Regions from separate parts of the Homo sapiens genome. Here all the other regions are linked to region 3. The links come from fine-mapping of genetic effects on gene expression. A gene starts in region 3. Each other region holds a variant in brackets. All regions are shown on one strand. Distances are between the middles of the regions. Region 1 overlaps SLC12A4 (solute carrier family 12 member 4). Region 2 overlaps RIPOR1 (RHO family interacting cell polarization regulator 1). Region 3 holds the start of DPEP2 (dipeptidase 2).

Region 1 (8,176 bases), 42 kb after region 3:
GGAGGCTTTAAGAAGTGACCTAATGAGAATCCCCCCGGGGGGCAGAGGGCCAGGGAGCCCCTCAGGAATGACAGCAGGAGACACAGCTGCCTGTACTCAGCCTTTACTGTGTGCGAGGTACCACACCAGGCCTGGGTTCTCATATGTCATCTGTACAACAAAACCAAGAGGCAGGTGCTTACTATCATCCCCATTTTTCAGACAAGGAAATAGTGTCAGGGACATTAAGGAACTTGTCTAAGGTGACTGAGCTAGACAAGATCAATGTGTAATGCTGGGAGATGGATTCGTAGATTTTATGGGAGACAGATTTGTGGGATATGTAACTATGCAAAATGCCAGATCAGTGACATTGTGTGAGGCTGGCTAAGAGTGTTGCCCTTGGAGCCAGGAACCAGGTTGTCTCTCGGAGGTCATGCAATCCAGAGCAAGTCACAAACCCTCCTGCTGCTCGCAGTGTTGGCCCAAGGCTCTATTGGCAGAAGCCTCCAACAACCCCCTGGGTTCCTTGAGTGCCAGTGTCAGGGGACATGTGTATGTGATCGGAGCCTGATGCTGCCTTGTGGGGCTTTCCTGTCCCACTTTTTGGTCACTAATCCAGTTCTCTGGCCCTTCAGCCCTCTTCTCTTTGGGGTGACTGTTACCTCTTTGCCTAGCTCCTCTGTGTCATTGCGGCTCAGTGTAGCTGAGGGCTGGGGATTTTTCTACATTTTTCATTTGGAGGCTAGGGACCCTCCCTCTCCACACACTGACTCCCTGAGGTTTGGGAAGCAGTGGTGTTTTAAGAGGAGCTGACGTCTGGCACTGGCTGTAGTATTCTCAGAGGTCGGCACAAGCAGAAGGCGCTCCTGGCTGGGATAAGCCAGGCCTGCAGCCTCACACCTGGTCGTGAGATTTGGGCCTTTCTGGGGTGGGGCCAGCAGAGAAGGTAGACCCCACTGAAGCGCGTCTCTCACCTTGCCCTTCAGGGAGGCAAACCAGCCCACACTTCAGAGAGGGCAGCTGATACCTTGAGGTCGCACAGACCTGACCCTGACCCTGTGCAGCCAGGTGTGACTAGATAGCAGAGAACCCTAACTGCGTCTGGCCATGTCTGTCCAGCACTGCAGGGGTGTCTCAACCTCTGAGAGTGCTCTGCCCACAGTGGGTGACAGGATCCTTAGGTCAGAGCCTCATCCTTGTCCCTTCAGGCCAAGCCAGGGAGCTGGTGGCGGGGAGTGAAGAGGCCCCTGAGAACGGCTAGTGCACATCTCAGCAGGAATGTGGGAGGGATGCCTGGGCCAGAGAGAGCCCATCATCCCTTGGCCCAATGGGGAACCCGTGAGGATGCTTAGCTTAGCTATCCAGCTTACCTGGCCACAGGGTAAGGATGGGAGAGGGTGACTGGGTGTCTTAGCTGCAGTAGTTTTTTCATGGAAGAAGGAGGAGCTGGGTCAAGTCTTTAAGGAGTCAGTAGGAAGTTAGGGATCTGGGGCTGCTGAGCTGTGGTCCTCACCCAGGGCAGGCCCGAGCAGGGGCCTCGGAAAAGGAAGGCTTGAAGCAGGAAGGGTGGGCCTCCGACCAGACCATGCCAAGACCCAAAGCAGCCTCTCCCCAGCAGCTGCTCCAGCTCCAGCACCGGCTTGATGACCTTCTGAGGCTGCCAGAGGTTATTTGGGGATGCAGAAAGCATTTCCGGCCCACCCTGCCCTTTCCCACACTGTCCTTTTCTTAGAGTGACTCAGCCTGGGATGGGGGTGGGACTGGGAGCTCTTGCTGTCGCTATTCTGTGGGTGGCATCCTCTGAGAAGGGCTCAGACAAAGCCCAGATGAGGGGGATCCGTCCCCTGCACTGCTCCACGCAGGACAGGTTGAGGAGCCATTTGTTTTTGCTGAGGCTCTTCTGAAGTCCTTTAGGTCGCTCACAGGTCTTGCCCCAGGCCAGGACCCTTCAGGAGGGGCATTAAGGAACTTGTCTAAGGTGACTCAGCTAGACAAGATCATGGCCATGGAGTTCTCTTCTCCCTAGCTTCAGGGCAGCACGGGCACTGTCTCGTGGGTCTTCCCTGTCCCCTCTCCCCGTATGATTTTCACTAATCTAGTCCTTTGGATCAGTGAGGAGGCTTTGCTGGGGCTCCAGTGGAAGCTGTCAGGGCCACACTTCGGAGGCTGCACTCTTGGGGGCTCAGTGCCTCAAAAAGATGTCAGCCAGCCTCTGTGCTCTCAGCCTCTGCCCTGGCCTCCTGGCTGGCCCCTACTCTGCCCTGAGTTGAGAAAGCCTGCCTGGATTTGCGTATTAGATCTTCCTCACCTGCCCTACAGCCTGAGCACTTTCTCTGTAGGATTTTCCCAACAGGATGTCCCAGGGGCTTCCAAAGCACCACTCACTGGGTTCAGAAGCACCTTTTGGGTACCTGCAGGGCCTGCTGGTGATAGAACCATAAACAAGCCAAGCCTGCCCTAATATAGTAACAAAATATACAAGCACATTCTGTTACCATGACCTGTAGTGACCACTGTGATAGGGAGTATCAGATGCCAAAGGAATGTGAGAGGGAGAACCAACTCCACCTGAGGCAACCTTCGGACATCTTCCCGAGAGAGGTAACAGTTTCACTGAAGAGTTTGCCAGGCCGTGAGGCAGGGCCGACTCTCCCAGGCAGAGTCCAGCACATTCTCAGGTTCGCAGAATCTGAGGGACCCATGTGGTCAGGGGCTGGAGCTAATAAGAGAGGTGATGGGACACATCTGGTGGCCCAAGCCAAGGAGTTGGACGGCACACTGGATTACAAGACAACAGAGGGTTTTCAGCATGGGTGATGAGATTAGACTTGCTTTCAGAGACCTACTATAGCAGCAGAGTGGGCTGGAGTGTGGAGAGGTTGACAGGCTCAGGAGGGTACCACCCAGGTGCCCCAGGTTCAAGGGACTAAGGCTGGGACAAGGCAGGCTGATCTCAGGGCAGCAGGGAGACAGACTGGGTAGGAGTTAGTGTCTACCGGGACTAGAGTTGGGGGTTGAGAGGGAGGGCCAGGGATGACTTCTGGGACTTTGGCTTGGGTGACTTAGGGCCTGCTGGGTGAGAAGGTGGAGATCTGAGACAAACCTCTCTTTCTAGAAGTTTAACAGAAGAGAGGAAGGGAAGGAGGCAGTACCTTGAGAGAGAGTTAAGGTTCCAAAGTTCAATGTGGGTTTTTAAAAAGAATCAGGTTTTACACCTTCCCAGACTCAACTGTCTTCCTATATGAAAGTCAATAGAGACATCCTAGCTGTCACCCCTACTCTCTGTGTTCCCTGGGGCCCCACTGGGGGAGGGGGCCTGCTGAGTGACTAGGGCTGACTCTCCATGGTGCATCCCTCTGATGCTCTACTCGCCCCCTCCCTTTGTGTTCGCATAGGCACCCAGCATGGGCACCCTCATGGGGGTGTACCTGCCCTGCCTGCAGAATATCTTTGGGGTTATCCTCTTCCTGCGGCTGACCTGGATGGTGGGCACAGCAGGTGTGCTACAGGCCCTCCTCATCGTGCTTATCTGCTGCTGTTGTGTGAGTGTCCTGGCGTGGGAGGGTTGGGCTGGGCATGGGCCACGGCTGCCCCCACAGAGCCCACCCAGCTGAGCCGCTCACCCAGGCCCTCCTTCCCACAGACCCTGCTGACGGCCATCTCCATGAGTGCCATCGCCACCAACGGTGTGGTTCCAGGTCAGTGAGCGCCACCCAAGGCCTGGTGGAAGAGAAAAGGACCCAGTATCTGCCTTGACCTACCTGGGAACCCCCATAGCACACCCCTGCCCCAAGCAGTTCTGTAGTGGGCTCCCAATCCCTGATGCCAGGACAGTGCCCACGTAGGAGCTTTCCTGCTTGACAGAGTTGGAGAGTGCCATTGTGGTTTTTGTTAATATAAAAGCAATACCAAAAAAGAAAAAAAAAGGGCAATGTATGTTTACTGTAAGAGGGTTTGAAAGTGCAAAAAAAGGCCAGGCGCGGTGGCTCATGCCTGTAATCCCAGCACTTTGGGAGGCCGAGGTGGGTGGATCACAAGGGCAGGAGATCGAGACCATCCTGGCCAACACGGTGAAACCCCATCTCTACTAGAAATACAAAAAATTAGCCGGGCGTGGTGGCGGGCGCCTGTAGTCCCAGCTACTCGGGAGGCTGAGGCAGGAGAATGGCGTGAACCTGGCAGGCAGAGCTTGCGGTGAGCCGAGATTGCACCACTGCACTCCAGCCTGGGCGACAGAGCGAGACTCCGTCGCAAAAAAAAAAAAAAAAAATTAGCCAGGCATGGTGGTGGGCACTTGTAATTCCAGCTACTTGGGAGGCTGAGGCAGAGAATAGCTTGAACCCAGGAGGCAGAGGTTGCAGTAGTGAGCCAAGATCATGCCACTGCACTCCAGCTTGGGTGACAGAGCAAGACTCCATCTCCAAAATAAATAAATAAATAATAAAAAAGTGCAGAAAGGTATAGAATGGAAAATTAAAAGCACCCATAATCCCACCATCCTGAAATCACTACTGTTCGCCTTTTGGTATATATAAGTCTTAGGGTCTTATGAAGTATTGCACACGCACACTCTATTTACATAAATTGTATATATATATATATAT[ATG/G]TGTGTGTGTGTTTGTGTGTATTTCCCAAAAGTATATGTGTGTATATATACATATGCATTTATGTGTATATGTTTACGTGTGTATGTGTGTGTGTATGTTTCCCAAGTGTTGAAAACAGTTTTTTGATTTTGGTTTTTTGGGTTTTTTTTGAGACAGAGTCTCTCTCTGTCACCCAGGCTGGAGTGCAGTGGCATGATCTCAGCTCACTGCAACCTCCATTTCCCAGGTTTAAGCAATTCTAAGTGATTCTCATGCCTCAGCCTCCTGAGTAGCTGGGATTACAGGCGACCACCACATTTTTGTATTTTTAGTAGAGACGAGGTTTCACTATGTTGGCCAGGATGGTTTCGAACTCTTGACCTTAACTGATCCACCCACCTCTGCCTCTCAAAGTGCTGGGATTACGGGTGTGAGCCACTGCACCCTGCCGAAAATGGTTTTTTGAAAACAGGATTCTCCATGGTACACCATAACCTAATTAATGTGATTATTCTCCTGCCTGTGGGTTCCACTTTTTCACCATTGTATACATTGTTGTCATGAACATCCTTGAACATGAATCTTTGTTCATGCCCCAGCAGTTCCCTTAGGAGAGGGTCCTGGAGGTGGATTACGGCATGAAAAAGATTGACTTTTCGTTTATTTATTTATTTATTTATTTTGAGACGGAGTGTGTCGCCCAGGCTGGAGTGCAGTGGCACGATCTCAGCTCACTGCAATCTCCACCTCCCAGGTTCAAGCGATTCTCCTGCCTCAGCCGCCCGAGTAGCTGGGATTACAGACATGCACCACCATGCTCAGCTAATTTTTGTATTTTTAGTAGAGATGGGGTTTCACCATGTTGGCTAGGCTGGTCTCAAACTCCTGACCTCAAGTCATCTGCCTGCCTCAGCCTCCCAAAGTGCTGGGATTACAGGCGTGAGCCACTGTGCCCAGCTGACATTTTTTTTTTTTTGAGACGGAGTCTCACTCTGTCGCCAGGCTAGAGTGAAGTGGCATGATCTCGGCTCACTGCACCCTCTGCCTCCCAGGTTCAAACGATTCTCCTGCCTCAGCCTCCTGAGTAGCTGGGACTACAGGTGCACACCGCCACGCCTAGCTAATTTTGTATTTTAGTAGAGACGGGGTTTCATCGTGTTGCCCAGGCTGGTCACGAACTCCTGAGCTCAGGCAGTCCACCCATCTCAGCCTCCCAAAATGCTGGGATTACAGATGTGGGCCACTGCACCCGGCCTTTTTTTAAAAATGTATATTTTTATCATTTCCTTTTTTTAGTAGAGACGGGGTCTCGCCATGTTGCCCAGACTGGTCTGGAACTCCTGAGCTCAAGCAATCCACTCACCCCAGCCTCCCAAAATGCTGGGCTTACAGGCATGAGCCACCACGCCCAGCCAAGATTGACTCTTTGAAAGAATTTCTTGATCCCTGTTCCCAGATTTTCACCAGAGACATTGTCTCAGCAGCAGATACAACCAGCAACATGAGATGACTCTTGTCCCCCTGTGCTTGTCACCCTGGGGCCTGGTCATGACTCTCTGAGTCTTTTAAGGGTGTTAGACTTTGATAGAAGCACAGATTCAGGGCAGGGAGCCGTGGACACTCACCTGGTGGCAGGCACTGTGCGGGGCCTTAGGGCCAAAAGGCTGGATGAGACAGTCCCTCCTCTGGTCTGGAGGAGTCAGACTAACAAAGGCACAGGCCTCAGGAGGGTGAGGTGGGCTGAGATAGGACACACCCAGCCAGAGGAGGCTGTGGGCTGTGCACAGGGCATTGGAGGATGGTGGCCAGTCAGCCACTGCTGCAGACTAGAGCTGCTCCCGCAAAGCAGTTATTTCCACGGGCCGTGCTGGACATTCGAGTCAGATGGGGATAGGATCGAATGTCAGCCTAGATGCTTACCCACCGTGCAGCCCTGGGTAGGTCTCCCAGCCCCTCTACTCATCCACAAACAGGAAAAGCAGTCCCTGTCCCTCTGGGTGGTTGTGCAGGCTTGTCACAGGGAGACCCCTTGAAGAAGAACCAGCCTTGACCTGTGCACACTTTCATTTCTCTGCTGTAGCTGGGGGCTCCTATTTCATGATCTCTCGTTCACTGGGGCCAGAATTTGGAGGTGCTGTGGGCCTGTGCTTCTACCTGGGAACAACATTCGCAGCAGCCATGTACATCCTGGGGGCCATCGAGATCTTGCTGGTGAGTCAGGCTGAGCCCTGGCCAACTCTGGCCATGTCCAAACAGTCCCTTTGGACTCCAAACAGAAGGCTCAGGCTGTTCATCCCCACATGTCTGGCCAAGGCCTGGGTATTATAAAGTAGGAAGCCTCTTCGAGAGACAAAGACCTTTACTCAGGCTGGTCTTCCTTTCACCTCCATGCCAGTTTGGGCCAGGCAAGGCAGAGGCCTGGCTGCCTTCACCTCGGCCCTGGATGTTCCATCCACCTGGGCACCATTGCAGCCATGGCAAGGGTTCCAGGAACTGTTGTATTCAGCTCAGTGACAGATCTTGGTGGTGATGTAGGCTTCCTTCTGGGCTTGTGTGAGCTCTGGCCAGCTCTGTGTCCTCCGGGGCTCTGTGCCAGGGCACTTCAGATCCACCTTCTCCTTGTCCTTCAATCAGGGTAAGCAGCCACAGAACCCTGCTGGAGGTCGGCGCTCCCTCCACGAGCCCCATGGGAGCTCTGTCAGCCTCAGCTTCTCATTCCCCAGTGAACTGCCGTACCAGTGGGAGAAGAGGCAAGGAGCTGCGGGAGGCATGGGGTGACAGGTGCCCGCCCCTGGGGATCCAGAGGGTAGGAGATACCTGGAGGGACTGCCTGGCTGTTCTTGTCTCCAGGTCCTCTACCTGCAGCAGGACCCTGCACCTGAATCTTCTGATTTGGGGGGGCTTTGGCTTGTTTTCATTTCTCATATCCCTTCTACATTCATTATGTGGGATTTGTCCCTTCTCCTGTTTATCTATTCAGCCATGTCATTATATCTGTATGGACTTCTGGATATTTACTTTATTCTTTGGGTTGTAATCCAATACTATCATTATTTATTTTCTTGCTCAAACTGTTCCACTTTGGCTATTTAACGATTCAGGTTGGCATCTATGTTTGGATCCTTTTTGTTTGCTTGTTTTTAAGTAACAGCTTTATTAACATATAATTTACATACCATGCAATTCCCATACCAATTTATATACCATTGAAAGTGTACAATTCAATGTTTTATAGTATATTCACAGAGTTGCGCAGTCAATTCTAGAACATTTTCATCATCCCAAGAACCCCCATTAGCAGTCACTCTCCATTCCCCGCCAGCCCTGGCAACCAGGAATCTGCTTTCTGCCTTGGGATTTGCCTATTCTGGGCATCTCATATAAACAGAATCATATAATATGTGACCTTTTGTGACTGGCTTCTTTTAGGTACTCTTATTTTTTATTTTTATTTATTTATTTGTTTTGAGATGCAGTCTCACTCTGTCGCCCAAGCTGGAGTGCAGTGGCATGATCACAGCTCACTGCAATTTCCGCCTCCTGGGTTCAAGTGATTCTCCTGCCTCAGCCTCCCGAGTAGCTGGGATTACAGGCTCATGCCACCACGC
Region 2 (8,176 bases), 470 kb after region 3:
TCCTCAGAAAGAGGAGAGCAGGAGTCCCCCAGACTCTCACTACGCACCCCCAGACCCAGCCCCATCTGACGCCCTTTGACCCCACCAACCCTGCGCGGCCGCGTACCTGGGCCCCCGCTCGTGGCTGCCGAGGACGCCTGCGAAGGACTGGCTCCTATTGACCCGGGCGCTGAGCAGACGGCGCTGCGGCCGCACCGACAGGGACATCATAGAGTGAGTCCGCGCGGGGCTCCCTGCGGGTGATCGGGGGGGTGTCCAGTACCAGTCGGATCCCCGAAGCCCTCTCCCACGCAGCGGGATCCAGGGCTGGCGCAGGTCTTTCCTGTCGCTAGGCACAGCTGCCCCAGCGGGCTCCGGCCGGGTCCGCCTAGTCCCGCCGACCCGGGCACTAATGACAGGACAGCCGCAGGCGACTCGGCCTCGGACTCAGCGTGGCCTCGGCTCGGCCCCCACTTCCTGCCGAGGTGCGGGCTCCGCCTGCCGCGGGGCAGGAAGGGGGGTCGCGCGGGGACCCTCCTCCGGCTGGGAAGGGGCAGGAAAGGGGCGGCGCGCGCGAAGAATGTGCGGAAGCGCCTGTTTACCCGGGGGCGGGGCAGCCTCCCCAGCCCTGCCCCCGATTTCCCCCCCCAGGGCACCCGGAGCTCGGGGCCCCCCACCCCGGGAGCCCAAGGAGGTCACGGGGCGGGGCGGGGCCACGCTCGGAGCCCTGCGGAGCTGCCCGACAGGCCCAGCCGGTGCGGGTTTGTCGCCCGCCCCCCGCCTGCCAGCGTGACCTGCTGCCCCCAGCCCCCACCGGCCCGGGCGTCCCGGCGCCCTCCAGGCAGGGGGATTCCCAGAGCTGGGCGCGATGCCGAGAAGGGCCCCGCCCCCTCCTCTTTCCTGAGGCTCCCACCTGGAAACTGAGTCACGGACGTGCGCCTCCACCCCGGCATCGGCGGGGAGAGCTCCTCGGCAGACCCCCACCCCGCTTCGGCGAAACACACACTCCTGGCCCCCAAACCCGGCCTGCTTCCCCTGGGGCCAGTCCCTGAGCTTTCGCAGCCCCGAGCTGGGTCCTACCTCTCTTCTTGGTGTTCATGGTGGGTCCGGGACGGCCCCCGACCCGCGCTCGCCCCCCGCGGACCTTCCGGCCCTGGCCACTTCGAGCCGCCCGGCTGGGCTCCGGGCTCGCTCCCAGCGGCTCTGGCTCGGCTTCGGCTCCTCCCGGCGCCGCCCCCCGCCCAGTTCCTGCCGCCTGACTCAGCCCGCCTGGATGGGGCGGGACCGGTGACTGGGGTTCCCCTCGGGGAGGGGACCGACGGGGGGCGAGGGGTCTGCTCAGCTGGGGTCAGCAATGTGCGTAAAGGGATTTGAGCATGGGGATGAATATGAAGGGATAGAATGGAGACGCTAAGTGGAGGAAGTATCAGACATTAGAGTAGGGGGCTTAAAGAGTCGCTATTGAGGCCGGGCACAGTGGCTCACGCCTGTAATCTCAGCACTTTGGGAGGCCGAGGCGGGCGGATCACGAGGTCAGGAATTCGAGATCAGCCTGACCAACAAGGTGAAACCCCGTCTCTACTAAAAATACAAAAATTAGCCGGACATGGTGACGCGCGCCTGTAATCCCAGCTACTCAGGAGGCTGAGACAGGAGAATCGCTTGAACCCGGGAGGTGGCGCCACTGCACTCCAGCCTGGGCGACAGAGCGAGACTCCGTCTCCCCCAAAAAAGAGTGGCTGTTGAGCAGTGCTAAGGCTGAACACACAGAGGGCTGAGAGCTGGGGTTCTAAGTGTGAGAAGGTGGATAGTAGGGGGCTGAAGAGTGGAAAGATGGGCTAAGGGTGCTGATTGGAGGGGCTGTGCCAATGGAGGGCGGAGAGTTAGGGCACTGATCACCAGGGGACTGAGGCTGAGAAGAGAGGCTGAAAGTGTGAGGCTAGATCCACCCCATAGTGTGTGCTGCTGCGCCAAGAGAGATGCAGAGAAGGAACTGGATGCAGAGTCCCACAGCCCCATGCACCACCCCATCCCTACTCCCACAGAGGGAGTGCTCAGCCTGAGCACTCCCCTCTTCCCAGGACCCAGGGGAAAGGATCAGGTCTGGCTGCCAGCCAGGGCCTCCTCCCTAGTCAAGCTGCATCCTAGGCTAATGCCCCATCCTTCCTGCCCCCAGCTCACATGGGCCTCTCAGGTTCTGCGTTCCCATCCTGATCCCCATCCCCAGTACCTCTCTTTTTTTTTCTGTGTCTCCCAAGCTGTAGTGCAGTGGCACGATCTTGGCTCACTGCAACCTCTGCCTCTCAGATTCAAGCGATTCTCCTGCCTCAGGCTCCCAAATAGCTGGTATTACAAACACCCGCCACTATGCCTGGCTAATGTTTGTATTTTTAATAGAGACGGGGTTTCACCATGTTGGCCAGGCTGGTCTTGAACCCCTGACCTCAAGTGATCAGCCTGCCTCATTCTCCCAAAGTGCTGGGATTACAGGCATGAGCCACCGCGCCCAGCCTATCTCTTCTTTGAATATCCCATGTCCACCTCTAGCCTGGATAGATGCCACCATGCCCATCCCTCCCTTGACCTTGGAGGGGCTGGATGCTCCCCCATCCCATAAACACTCTTGCTCCTTGAGGCTCAGTTCTCCCATACTGTGCTTACTTTCTCCCCAAAAGGCTGGGTTGGGCCCAGGGGTCTGCATTTCCACAAGTTCCCCCTCCCCCCGACAGATTCAGATGCAAGAGGTCCAGGGACCTCAGTTTGAGATATGTTATTCTCCCCTCCTCCTTGAAGGCGAAGCCTGGGTACCCTGCACCCTACACTGGTGACCTGTGCATTCCCATGGATTGCCTGCCTATCGCTGGCCTCTCTGGTCCCTTCAGCCATCCCCAGCCTTATCACCTGCCTTTGGAATGCCCCCCTCCTAAACCACAACCACACTGATGCAACCCTCAGGCTTTCCATCACCCCCACCTCACCTGCCTTTTACCTGAGACCTCTGGCCCCTTGAGCCCTCACCCATTTATTCACCTATTCACTGAGTGGCAACCTTGTGCCAAGCATGTGCCAGTCACTGGAGATACAGCCCAGAATTTCACAGACACCACCCTGTGCAGAGCTCACAGTCCGCCTCTGCTTTCTTTTTTTCTGCTAGCTCCCTCCTACCTTCTCTTCTGTACCTTCCCTGCACAGCCTCCTCCCCAGCCTGGATCCACAGCCACCATCCCATCACTTGCCTGCTGCAAGTATCCTCAGCACTGCGCACCTCTCTCCCAGCTGGCAGAAACCAGCCCTGGGGAATCCAACTCCTGGACTTCTCTACACCTGCACACAGGTTGGCAGGAGTTGCCAGAGGTCTTGGCACAGCAGCCTGGCTGGAATCACAGAGCAATCCTCAACCTTGGCCAGGCCCTCACTGCCCACCTGGCAAATCCTCAAGTGTGACCCTAGTCATCTTTCTCCTTTTGGGGTGTTTCAGACTTTCTCCACAAGTCTCAGACAAGCTCAAGTCACTCCCACATGAAAAATAAAAACGGGCTGGGTGTGGTGGTTCATGCCTATAATCCCAACACTTTGGGAGGCAGAGGTGGGTGGATCACTTGAGGTCAGGAGTTCGAGACCAGCTTGGCCAACATGGTGAAACCCCATCTCTGCTAAAAATACAAAAATTAGCTGGGCTTGGTCGTGCACGCCTGTAGTGCCAGCTACCTGGGCGGCTGAGGCAGGAGGATCGCTTGAACCTGGGACGCAGAGGCTGCAGAGAGCTGCTATCATGCCACTGCACTCCAGGCTGGGTGACAGAGCGGGAGTCTGTCTCAAAAAAAAAAAAAAAAAAAAAAAAAGAAAAAAAGAAAACCCTAGAAACTGTCCAGATGCCTGTCAATGAATAATGGAATTACCACATAGCAAAAAGAATGAAAAATATACAGTGACATGCAACAATATGGGTGGATCTGAGAGCAAACCCAAGAGAGGACAAATGTATGACCTTGATAATAAGTTCAAAAGCAAGCAAAACTAATCTATGGTGATAGAAGTCAGCCTGGGAGTCTCCCTCCAGGTGTTGTGACTGAAGAGGCCACAAGGGTCTTCCAGGGTGCTGGTAATGTCCTATTTCCTGCTCTGGGTTAAATTTCCTGATTCTATATGAGTGTGTTCTCTTATGAAAATGTACAGAGTTGTACACTTAGGACATACACACTTTTTGTGTGCCTATTATATTTCAATGTAAAATTGGTTGTAAATAATTACAAAATGTTGGGCCGGTGCGGTGGCTTACGCCTGTAATCCTAGCACTTTGGGAGGCTGAGGCAGGTGGATCACTGAGGCTAGGAGTTTGAGACCAGCCTGGCCAACATGGTGAAACCCTGACTCTATTAAAAATACAAAAATTAGCCAGGTGTGGTGGCATGGCCTGTAGTCCCACCTACTCGGGAGGCTGAGGCATGAGAATTGCTCAACCCAGGAGGCAGTGAGCTGAGGTCGCGCTGCACTACAGCCTAGGTGATAGAGCAAGATTCTTTCTTAAAAAAAAAAAATTACAAAAAAGAAATGACTCAGCCCAGTGCAGCAGCTCATGCCTGTAATCCTAGTACTTTGGGAGGCCGAGGCAGGTGGATCACCTGAAGTAAGGAGTTCGAGACCAGCCTGACCAACTTGGTGAAACCCCGTCTCTACTAAAAAAAAAAAAAAAAAAAAAAAA[AT/T]TAGCCGGGCGTGGTGGCGCATGACTGTAATCCCAATTGCTCAGAAGACTGAGGCAGGAGAATCGCTTGAACCCGGGAGGTGGAGGTTGCAGTGAGCCAAGATTGCACCATTGCACTCCAGCCTGGGCGACAAGAGCAAAACTCCATCTCAGAAAAAAAAAAAAAAAAAAGACTGCTTGTGGACCTTCTGTCTTTGTCCAGCTACCCCATTTCTTACTCCATCTTTCTCCTCTCCTTTCAAAGCCAAGTGTCTTGAAGAGATGTCTACCTGCATTTTCTCACTACACCCGCCTGCTCCTCTTCCCACCCTGGTCCAGTTTCTGTACCCACCACTGGACAAGGTCACCAGTGACCTCCCTGTTGCTGAACCCAGTGCCCATGTTTTATCCTTATCCTGCTTGATCTCAGCAAAGCTTTGGACTTCGTGGTTCCCCTCCTCTTCTTTAAGCCCTTCCTTCCCCTGAATTTCAAGAGACAATACGCTGGTTTTCTATCTACCTCTCTGGCTGCATATCTTACTTTCCCACAGAGGCCCCTTCTTTCCTCCCATCCCCGAATGGGCCTTATCCTCCCCGCCCTTGGGCTGTGCACAGATCCCGCAGCTCAATGCCATCTAAATGTTGCCAGCTTCCTTATCTCTCCTCCACCCAAGCCACTCTTCTGAGCACCAGGCCTCTGTATCCAACTGCCTGCTTGCTGCCTCCCCAGATGCAGCGTGCGCTGTCATAGTGCATGCTGGGTTTGAGGTTCCCAAACCAAATTCACCACTTTCCACCTGACTCTCCCTAGTCTCAACTTCTCCATGACACTCCACCATCTATGTACCCCGTTGTTCAAGACAGAAACTAGAAGTCGTCCTGGATGTCTCAGTTAGCCCCTATGACCAGTCACCCCCTCCTGCCAGGTCACCCCCTCCTGCCAGGTCTGGCTCTTAAATCTCTCTGCAATCTGCCCCCTCACCTCTACCCCTATAGCCAGAATTCAGGTCCAAGCCATCACCAACTCTCCCCTCGAGCCCTACAGCTGGGCTTCTGATGAGCTAGAACCTTCCTGAGGGACCTCCTGTCTCCACTCTAACCTGCAATCATCCATTCATTATTCAGTAACAACACTGACCTTAAAATTGTAGCCACTTGACAGTGCCAAAAACTGTCCTTTATTGAGAGCATTCTATATGCCAGGCATTGAGCTTAGCAAACATCATCTCATTTAATCCTGGCAACAGCCTTATGGGGTAAGTCCTATTAGCTCCACTTCGCACCTGAGAAACCTGAGGCTGTGTGACCTTGGGCAAGACACTTATTCAGCCTTTTGGGCTTCAGACACCCATCTGTAAAAAGAGGACAATAATAATAATAACAACAGCTATTTCCCAAGGCTGCTGGGAGGATGAAATGAGATCTCCTCTCATGAGGATGTCCCTCTATAGGAAGTGTTTGGGGAAGGGAGAATTGTATGTGGGGTAGGGACGTTGAGGTGGACTCACTATACCTAATTTTTTTTTTTTTAAGACGAGGTCTCACGCTGTCACCCAGGTCTCAGTGCAGTGGTGTGTTCATAGCTCACTGCAGCCTTGAACTCCTGGGCTCAAGCGATCAGTTTCAGTGCAGTGGTGCGTTCATAGCTCACTGCAGCCTTGAACTCCTGGGCTCAAGCAATCTTACTGCCTTAGCCTCTTAAGTAGCTGGAACCACAGGCATGCACCACCATGCCTAGCTAACATCTAACTGTGAACACACAACAAATACTAACTGCTATTATTTTTAACAGTCACACGGCCGGGTGCGGTGGCTCACGCCTGTAATCCCAGCACTTTGGGAGGCTGAGGAGGGCGGATCATGAGGTCAGGAGATCAAGACCATCCTGGCTAACACGGTGAAACCCCATATCTACTAAATATACAAAAAAAAAAAAAATTAGCTGGGCGTGGTGGCTGGCGCCTGTAGTCCCAGCTACTCAGTAGGCTGAGGTGGGAGAATGGCATGAGCCCGGGAGGTGGAGCTTGCAGTGAGCCAAGATCTCACCACTACACTCCAGCCTGGGCGACAGAGCGAGACTCTGTCTCAAAAAACAAAACAAAACAGTCACACAGGTGGTAAGTGTCAAGACCATGATTCAAACCCAGGCTGTCTGACCCCAGGACTCTAAATCTTTAATATCACTCTATTCAGACTGATGTGAAATAGCCACAGCCACTCTTGTCCCAGGGAGAAAGCCCAGACTCTCTAACATGACCCACGTAGGCCCTTCAGGATTTGTCCTGTCCCTCACATTCTTTCAACCACTCCTCTCCTCCCAGTCCCCTGCTTTCTCTGTTCCAGCAACTGAGACCCTCTCTCAATACCTGCAAGGTTCTTCAGAATCTGACCGGCAGCCCCCATCGCTCCTATTCCTTCTTCCCACTACTCAGCCCCAAGTCCCTCTCCTTCCTCAAGTCTACCCTATGACTTCTTCCTCCAGGAAGCAGGCCCTGGGTTGGTTCCCCCTTTTTGACTTCCTCCCTCTGAACCCCGAGACCACATAACCCAGTTGTCAGTTCTCCTTTAGGGCCTGTCTTCCCACCAGACTGAACCTTGTGAGACCTGGGGCATATCTGCTTGGCTCACCACAGCGCTCTGGGGGTCCTGTAGCACCTGGGAGATGAAGGGGGGGAACAGTGGGGGAAGCTGGGCTGCCTAGACACAGGAACAGCAGGTCCTGAGCTGTTTGTTGGTGGGGAGGATTTTAAGTCTATGTCCACCCCAACTCCCCTACCCGACATGCAATCCTCCCTCTCCCTTCCCACTGGCTGATGGTATCGTATACCATCAGCAAGTGGGGCTCTGCTCCCTGGGATGGTGCAGGGTGGGGATCCCCTGGGATTCTGGACTTGGAAACCGCTGACTGTTCCATCACTTTTCTCTCTCTGGTTGGCCCTCTGCTGCCACCATCCCCCGAGTCCCATAGGAACTAGGATGTCTAACTGTTGGTACAAATGACCATCATAATGTCCATCTGAGTGACCGCTTCGGGAGATGGGCGGGCAAGATTGCCCTTGCTGGGTGAGAGCAGGTAGGGAAAGAGCTGAACCCCTTGAGCTAAGGCAGAAGGGCCACCTCAACTGGTGGGGGACTGGCTGATAAGAACCAGGGGACTCTCTGGGCTCATGTCAGCCCTATAGTCTGTTCCCAGGATGGGAAATAACCCAGATCCAAGGTTCCAAAGGTTATGGGGCTTGCAGCACAGCCAGGTCAGGATGGCCGTGAGTGGAGGAGCCCTGACCTGTCCGCATGGCCCCAGATCTTGCAGCCCCGCTATACTTCCTACACACCAAGACTGGCACACCCGGGTGCGGCGGAATATCCCACCACCTGGGCTGCCCATCTCAGCACTGTGCCAGGCCAGCTGCCTCTCTGGGAGTCCCCGGGTCTAGCCCCGCCCCACCCCGGGGCCGCCCCGACCGAGGTAAACAGAGGCTAAAAATAACCTGGGCAAGGGGCGGCTGCAAGGGAGAA
Region 3 (8,176 bases):
AAGGTATGGTCAGAGATACTTGGACTTGATCCTGAATGAATGAGGCAGAAATTTATCATCTGCTGTAAGATCATCACATGTATAATAAGTTTCTTAGGCCAGGTGCAGTGGCTCACGCCTGTAATCCCAGCACTTTGGGAGGCCAAGGCAGGCAGATTGCCTGAGGTCAGGAGTTCGAGACCAGTCTGGACGACATGGTAAAACCCCACCTCTACTAAAAATACAAAAATTAGATGGGCGTGGTGGCAGGTGCCTATAATCCTAGCTACTCAGGAGGCTGAAGCAGAATTACTTGAACCCAGGAGGTGGAGGTTGCAGTAAGCCAAGATTGCACCACTATACTCCAGCCTGAGCAACAAGAAAACTCCATCTCAAAAAAAAAAAAAAAGTTTCTTGGATGAGCTGGGATTCCTAGAGCTTGAAACTCCCATGAATGAACGTCATCCCAGGGGAGCTATGACCAAGCCTTTCATCACTTATCACAACAAGCTGCACATGAACTACTCTAGAACTCTACCATAAGATGCTAGTGGTTGGTGGCATTGACCAGGTTTATGAAATTGCATTCCAGTTCTGGAATGAAGGAATTGATTTGACGTAAAATCCTGAGTTCAGCACCCCTGAGTTCTACATGGCCTAGACTATCACAATCTCACGGAAATCACGGGGAAGATGGTTCCAGGGATGGTGAAGCATAATACAGGTAGTTACAAGGTCACCTACTACCCAGATGTCCCAGAGGGATAAGCCTGCAATATTGACTTCACCCTACCCTTCCGGAGAATCAGCATGATAGAAGAGCTTGAGAAAGCCCTGGGGGTGAAGCTGCCAGAAAATAACCTATTTGAAACTGAAGCAATTGGCAAAATTCTTGATAATATCTGCGTGCAAATGCTATTGCGTGCCCTCCACCTAGGACCACAGCCAGGCTCCTTGACAAGCTTGTTGGGGGAGTTCCTGGAAGTGATTTGCAACAATTCTACATTCATCTGTGATCACCCCCAGATAATGAGCCCTTTGGCTAAATGGCACTACTCAAAAGGTCTGACCCAGCGCTTTAAGCTATTTGTCATAAAGAAAGCGATAAGCAATGCCTACACTGATCTAAATGATCCTATGCAGCAGTGGCAGCTTTTTGAAGAACAGGCTAAGGCCGCAGGTGATGATGAGGCCCTGTCCGTAGATGAAAACTTTGTTGCCGCCATGGAATACAGGCTGTCCCCCACAACTGCCTGGGGCATGGTTATTGACCGAGTCACCATGTTTCTCACAGATTCCACCAGCAACTCGGAAGGCTGAGGCAGGAGGATTGCCTGAGCCCAGGAGTTTGAAGTTTCAGTGAACAACACAGTGAGACCCTGTCTCTAAAAGGAAATTTTTTTTTTTTGAGACAGAGTTTCGCTCTTGTTGCCCAGGCTGGAGTGCAGTGGCACGATCTCAGCTCACTGCAACCTCCGCCTCCCGGGTTCAAGCGATTCTCCTGCTTCAGCCTCCCAAGCAGCTGGGATTACAGGTGTGCACTGCCACACCTGGCTAATTTTTGTATTTTTTATAAAGACGGGGCTTCATCATGTTGCCCAGGCTGCTCTCGAACTCCTGAGCTCAAGCAATTCACCTGCCTTGGTCTCCCAAAGTGCTAGGATTACAGGCGTGAGCCACCATACCCAACCTTTTAAAATTTTTTTCTTTTCTTTTCTTTATTCCTTCCTTCCTTCCTTCTTTTCTCTTTTTTTAATCTTACAAAAAATGTTTCGGAAAAGGTATTTTATTTTTAAGACAGGGTCTTGCTCTTTCCCAGAGGCTGGAATGCAGTGGAGCGACCATAGCTCACTGTGGCCTCTAACTTCTGGGCTCAAGCAATTCTCCCACCTCAGCCTCCTGAGTAGCTGAGACTACAGACATGTGCCACCATGACCAGCTACTTTTTAAAAAATTTTTTTGTAGAGAAGGGGTCTCACCATGTTTCCCAGGCTGGTCTTGAACTCCTGGCCTCAAGCAATCCTCATGCCTTGGCCTCCCAAAGTGCTAGGATTACAGGCATGAGCCACCATCTCTTGTCCCCTGAGATACTTTTAATGGCCTTGCTGGATCCAGCTCCTGCACCCCAGGGCCCTCCTGCCTCCTCCCCACCCTCGGCTGATGGCACTACCTCAAGGACATGGGATAGCATGCAGCCTTCTGTCCCAGATCCTCTGTACTGTCTGAAATCAGGCAGAACCCAGCTGCAAGAGGAACTCAATGGTACACATGGGACCCAAGTCATCAATCGTCTCCATCAGAAAGCAACCCAGGGCCAGGCACAGTGGCTCAGGCCTGTAATCCCAGCACTTTGGGAGTCCAAGGCGGGTGGATCACCTGAGGCCGGGAGTTCAAGGCCAATGTAGTGAAATCCCGTCTCTACTAAAAATACAAAAATTTGCTGGACATGGTGGTGCATGCCTGTAGCCCCAGCTACTAGGGAGGCTGAGGTTGGAGAATTGCTTGAACCTGGGAGGCGGAGGTTGCAGTGAGCCAAAGTGGCACCACTGCACTCCAGCCTGGGCAACAGAGCAAGATCCTGTCTCAAAAAAAAAAAAAAAAAGAAAAGAAAAAAGGCCGGGCGCAGTGGCTCATGCCTGTAATCCCAGCACTTTCAGAGGCCAAGGCTGGTGGATCACCCGAGGTCAGGAGTTCGAGACAATCCAGCCTCATCAACATGGTGAAACCCCATCTCTACTAAAAAAAATACAAAAATTAGCCAGCCTGGTGGTGCATGCCTGTAATCCCACGTACTTGGGAGGCTGAGGCAGGAGAATCGCTTGAACCTGGAAGGTGGAGGTTGCAGTGAGCCGAGATCGTGCCCTCGCACTCCAAAAAAAAAAAAAAAAAGCACCCCAGGAATGTTGGACAGAGAGGCTGGCGGGGTAGGGGTTGGTTGGTAAGGCTTGAGCAGAAGGTTCTAGATGCATTCAGGAGATAAAGATGCATTTGGGGTTATTGCACTTCTCCTAGAAACATAAACATTGACTTCCTTTTGTGGAAGAAAAATGTTATGTTAGCTATTTGACGTTTCAGGAAGGGTGGCTTCAGCTTGGTGATTGGAGGATGTTTGTCTACAGTGGCCAGGCTGCTTTCTGGCTTGGAAGACTATTGTTTCTTGGGAATTGTCTGTATCAGACATCATGGGAGCAGATCCAGGGCGACATCAAAGGGAAGCATGAGTCTCCAGGACCAGAGGGGCTTGGATGCAGATGATCATCATCTGGGCACTGCTGGATACTGAGTAAGCCCCAGCTGCACCCCACCTCTGCGCTCTGAGCATGGGAGGCAGCCTGTGCAGCTATAACTCAGCCTGACTTTTTCCTTCCCTGCATACTCTTGAAATACACTGGAGATGAGTAGGGGCGAGTGAGCTGCACACCAGAATAAGTTTGGTCCTTGGAGCAAACTGTTTCTACTGCTGCCTCCTCTGCAGGTCTTGATTTATGCAAACACTGCATAGAAGAGGAAGTAGAGGGAAAAGCTGTTCACCCACCTACTCCTTCCTGGTAGCAAGATTTCCTATCCTGGCCTTGCCTCAACAGCCCTACCAATTGGAGGCTGAGGTTGTGCCAAGGCTCTATGGGGGGACGTAGCATCACTGAGGTGGCCAGATTTTGGAGGACAGGAAAGTTTGTGCTATTTGCTGAGACTGGAGAGGCTGGTGAGAGCAGACTCTCCATGAGTTGAAAGCCAAAGAAAGAAATTCGGTAGATTTCTGCAATGAGAAGCCACGGAAGAACTTCAGGCAGGAGGATGCATTGGATCTTGTTTTCGTTTTGTTAGAGATGGGGTCTCACTCTGTCGCCCAGGCTAGGGAGCAGTGGTGCCATCGTCTCTCACTGCAACCTTAAACTCCTGGGCTCAGGCGAACCTCCCACCTCAGCCTCGTAAGTACCTGGAACCACAGGCATGCACCACTTTTTTTTTTCCTTTTTCTTAGAGTTCTCATTATGTTGCCTAGACTGGTCTCAAACCTCCGGCTTCAAGAGATCCTCTCACCTCGACCTTCAAATTACTGGGATTACAGGCATGAGCCACCATGTCCTACCAGACTTTGTTAAAAGAGGAACAGGCCAGGCATCGTGGGCTCACATGAACACTCATGCCCCAGAAGTAAACAAGTGTTAGCCAACCAGGAGGCCTATCCTCCCCCTAACCTCACCCAAAGCCATCTCTGTGCCCTCCCCCTTGCAGGGGAAACAGCACACACTAGTGAAATCTTGTCTTAGTGTGTCCGGAATTGGTGGGTTCTTGGTCTCACTGAGTTCTAGAATGAAGCTGCAGACCCTCGCAGTGAGTGTTACAGCTCTTAAGGTAGCGCGTCTGGAGTTTGTTTCTTTTGATGTTTGGATGTTTGGAGTTTCTTCCTTCTGGTGGGTTTGTGGTCTTGTTGGCTCAGGAGTGAAGCTGCAGACCTTCGTGGTGAGTGTTACAGCTTTTAAGGCAGTGCGTCTGGAGTCGTTTGTTCCTCCCAGTGGGCTTGTGGTCTCGCTGGCTTCAGGAGTGAAGCTGCAGACCTTCGCGGTGAGTGTTAAAGCTCATAAAAGCAGCATGGACCCAAAGAGTGAACAGTAGCAAGATTTACTGCAAAGAGCAAAAGAACAAAGCTTCCACAGTGTGGAAGGGGACCAGAACAGGTAGCCACTGCGGGCTCAGGCAGCCTGCTTTTATTCTCTTATCTGGCCCCACCCACATCCTGCTGATTGGTAGAGCCGAGTGGTCTGTTTTGACAGGGTGCTGATTGGTGCGTTTACAATCCCTGAGCTAGACACAAAGGTTCTCCACGTCGCCACCAGATTAGCTAAATACAGAGTGTCGACACAAAGGTTCTCCAAGGCCCCACCAGAGCAGCTAGATACAGAGTGTCAGTTGGTGCATTCACAAACTCTGAGCTAGACACAGGGTGCTGATTGGTGTGTTTACAAACCTTGAGCTAGATACTGAGTGCCGACTGGTGTATTTACAATCCTGAGCTAGACGTAAAGATTGTCCACGTCCCCACCAGACTCAGGAGCACAACTGGCTTCACCCAGTGGATCCCGCACCAGGGATGCAGGTGGAGCTGCCTGCCAGTCCTGCGCCATGCGCCCGCACTCCTCAGCCCTGTGGTGGTCGATGGGACTGGGCGCTGTGGAGCAGGGGGCGGCGCTCACCGGGGAGGCTCCGGCCGCACAGGAGCCCATGGAGGGGGTGGGAGGCTCAGGCATGGAGGGCTGCAGGTCCCGAGCCCTGCCCCCCCGGGAAGGCAGCTAAGGCCCGGTGAGAAGTCGAGCGCAGCGCCTGTGAGCTGGCACTGCTGGGGGACCCAGTACATCCTCCGCAGCCACTGGCCCGGGTGCCAAGCCCCTCATTGCCCGGGGCCAGCAGGGCCCGCGGGCCGCTCCGAGTGCGGGCCCGCCAAGCCCACGCCCACCCGAAACTCCAGCTGGCCCGCAAGCGCCGCTCGCAGCCCCGGTTCCCACTCGCGCCTCTCCCTCCACACCTCCCTGCAAGCTGAGGGAGCTGGCTCTGGCCTTGGCCAGCCCAGAAAGGGGCTCCTACAGTGCAGCGGTGGGCTGAAGAGCTCTTCAAGTGCCGCCAAAGTGGGAGCCCAGGCAGAGGAGGCCCCGAGAGCGAGCGAGGGCTGTGAGGACTGGCAGCACGCTGTCACCTCTCATTAGGAGCTGCCAATATCAGTGGCACAGACCTGAGCACAGGGATAATTTGGGGTCAGAGGCTACAGTCTAAGTTAGCTAGATGCTGGCAGTGGGCAGAGTGGAAACAAGGCAGAGGCGGGGAAACTCAGGGCCTGACTCCAGAGCCGACCTTAAGTGTCACCGCTGATTCCTCCTTACTGTCTCCCACCAACCCTGCTTCAAAGCATCTCCAAATCCTGGGTTCAACTTCCAAACATGTCCCAGGAATGTCTCCTTCCTGTTCCCACTGCTTCTCCCCCTTACAGGCCCCTTCATTCCTTACCCCTCCTGATCTCCTGGCCTCCAGCCCATTCCCTACAGAAAAGCCATACCTATTTCTTCCATTTTAAAAAATGTGAGCTGGGCGCGGTGGCTCATGCCTGTAATCCTAGCACTTTGGGAGGCCAAGGTGAGTGGATCACGAGGTCGGGAGATCAAGACCATCCTGGCTAACACGGTGAAACCCCGTCTCTACTAAAAATACAAAAAATTAGCCGGGCGTGTTGGCGGGCACCTATAGTCCCAGCTACTCGGGAGGCTGCGGCAGGAGAATGGCCTGAACCCGGGAGGCGGAGCTTGCAGTGAGCCGAGATTGTGCCACTGCACTCCAGCCTGGGCGACAGAGCGAGATTCCATCTCAAAATAAATAAACAAATAAATATAAAAATAAAAAATTTGGCCAAGGGTCGGGGGTGGCTCATGCCTGTAATCCCAGCACTTTGGGAGGTCAAGGCAGGCGGATCACCTGAGGTCAGGAGTTCGAGACCAGCCTGGCCAACATGGCAAAACCCCATCTCTACTAAAAATACAAAAATTAGCCGGGAGTGGTGGCATGCGCCCGTAATCTCAGCTACTCGGGAGGCTGAGGCAGGAGAATCACTTGAACCCAGGAGGCAGAGATTGCAGTGAGCCAAGATTGCACCATTGCACTCCAGCCTGGGCAACAAGAATGAAACTCTGTCTCAGAAAATAATAATAATAATAATAATAATAATAATAATAATAATAATAATATCATTATCTATTTTTTTACAGACAGGGTCTTGCCCTGTCACCCAGGCTGGAATGCTATGGTGTTATCATAATGCTCACTGCAACTACAAGTGTGGGTGTGTCTGTGATTCGCTTTGTATGGTCCCCTCAAGGCCACATTTGAGGACTGAAGTTGCATATCATGGAAAATTGTGTTGTCTGGCTTATCTCCTACAGAGACAGTGCTCACTTTTACTGGCTCAACTCAGCCTGCCTCTGCTGAGCTAGCAGGTACCCCAAGTCCCAGGAGGTCAGACATTCGGGCTCTGGAGAGAAGCTTAAAAAAAAATGCAAAAAGTTGGCCGAGTGCGGTCGCTCACACCTATAATCCCAGCGCTTTGGGAGGCCGTGGTGGGTGGATTACCTGAGGTCAGGAGTTCAAGACCAGCCTGAACAAAATGGAGAAACCCCATCTCTACTAAAAAATACAAAATTAGCCAGGTGTGGTGGCACATGCCTGTAATTCCAGTGACTTGGGAGGCTGAGGCAGGAGAATCACTTGAACCCAGGAGGTGGAGGTTGCAGTGAGCCAAGATCACATCATTGCCCGCCAAGATCACATCATTGCCCTCCAGCCTGGGCAACAGGAGCAAAACTTTGTCTCAAAAAAAAAAGAAAAAAAATTCAAAAAGTTGAATTCTCCTCACCTACTCTGTCAGCTGTTATTTATTTATTCCTACCTACCCCTTCCTTATTTTTACATTTTTCAAACTGACAAATAATAATTGACCAGCCTGGGCAATATAGTGAGACCCTGTCTCTAAAAAAAAAAAAAAAAATAGCCGAGTGTGGTGGCGAGTACCTGTAGTCCCAGACTCGGGAGGCTGAAGTGGGAGGATTGATTGAACCTGAGAGGTTAAGGCTGCAGTGAGCTGAGACTGCACCACTGCAGTCCAGCCTGGGTGACAGAGCAAGACCTTATCTCAAAAACAATAATAATAATAATTTGCACATATTCATGGGGTACATAGTGATTTTTGTTGTTGTTGTTGTTGTTGTTGTTGTTGTTTGGCGGGGGGAGACAGGGTCTCGCTCTGTCATCCAGGCTGAAGTTCAGTGGCCCAATCTCGGCTCACTGCAACCTCTGCCTCCTGGGTTGAAACGATTCTCCCAACTCAGCCTCCCAGGTATTTGGGACTACAGGCGCGCACCACCAAGCCCGGCTAATGTTTGTATTTTTAATAGAGATGGGGTTTCCCCATGTTGGCCAAGCTGGTCTCGAACTCCTGACCTCAGATGATCCACCCACCTCGGCCTCCCAAAGTGCTGGGATCACGGGTGTGAGTCACTGCGCCCCACCCATAGTGATGTTTCAATACATATAACACATAATGATCAGGTTCAGTTCCTCATTCTTTATGCCCCTTACCTCTTGGGGCTCTCAGAATAAACTGTTTATCCCCAAAACCACATCTTTGACCTGGAGACCAGCAAATCCAAGAGCTTCT

Evidence for each region. PIP is the estimated chance that this variant, and not a neighbour inherited with it, causes the effect.
Region 1: its variant is fine-mapped to the expression of DPEP2 in whole blood (INTERVAL, PIP 0.91).
Region 2: its variant is fine-mapped to the expression of DPEP2 in whole blood (INTERVAL, PIP above 0.99).

Annotation. Positions count from the first base shown.
Region 1 is chr16:67,953,246-67,961,421 of GRCh38, reverse strand. SLC12A4 (solute carrier family 12 member 4) reads left to right here. Exons shown (of 24, transcript NM_005072.5): 4 at 3,378-3,524; 5 at 3,626-3,680; 6 at 6,649-6,779. Among named protein-coding and RNA genes, the nearest start is that of SLC12A4, 11 kb to the left of the region's middle. RefSeq lists an enhancer at 1,148-2,347. The variant ATG/G (reference allele first, on the strand shown) is at 4,587.
Region 2 is chr16:67,530,481-67,538,656 of GRCh38, reverse strand. It overlaps RIPOR1 (RHO family interacting cell polarization regulator 1), which reads right to left. Exons shown (of 22, transcript NM_024519.4): 2 at 107-233. The coding sequence starts at 210. Among named protein-coding and RNA genes, the nearest start is that of RIPOR1, 5.7 kb to the right of the region's middle. RefSeq lists enhancers at 134-203, 1-573 and silencers at 354-863, 1,084-1,363. The variant AT/T (reference allele first, on the strand shown) is at 4,682.
Region 3 is chr16:67,995,534-68,003,709 of GRCh38, reverse strand. DPEP2 (dipeptidase 2) reads left to right here and starts at 4,226. Exons shown (of 11, transcript NM_022355.4): 1 at 4,226-4,335. It also overlaps the pseudogene KARS1P3. RefSeq lists an enhancer at 5,287-5,803.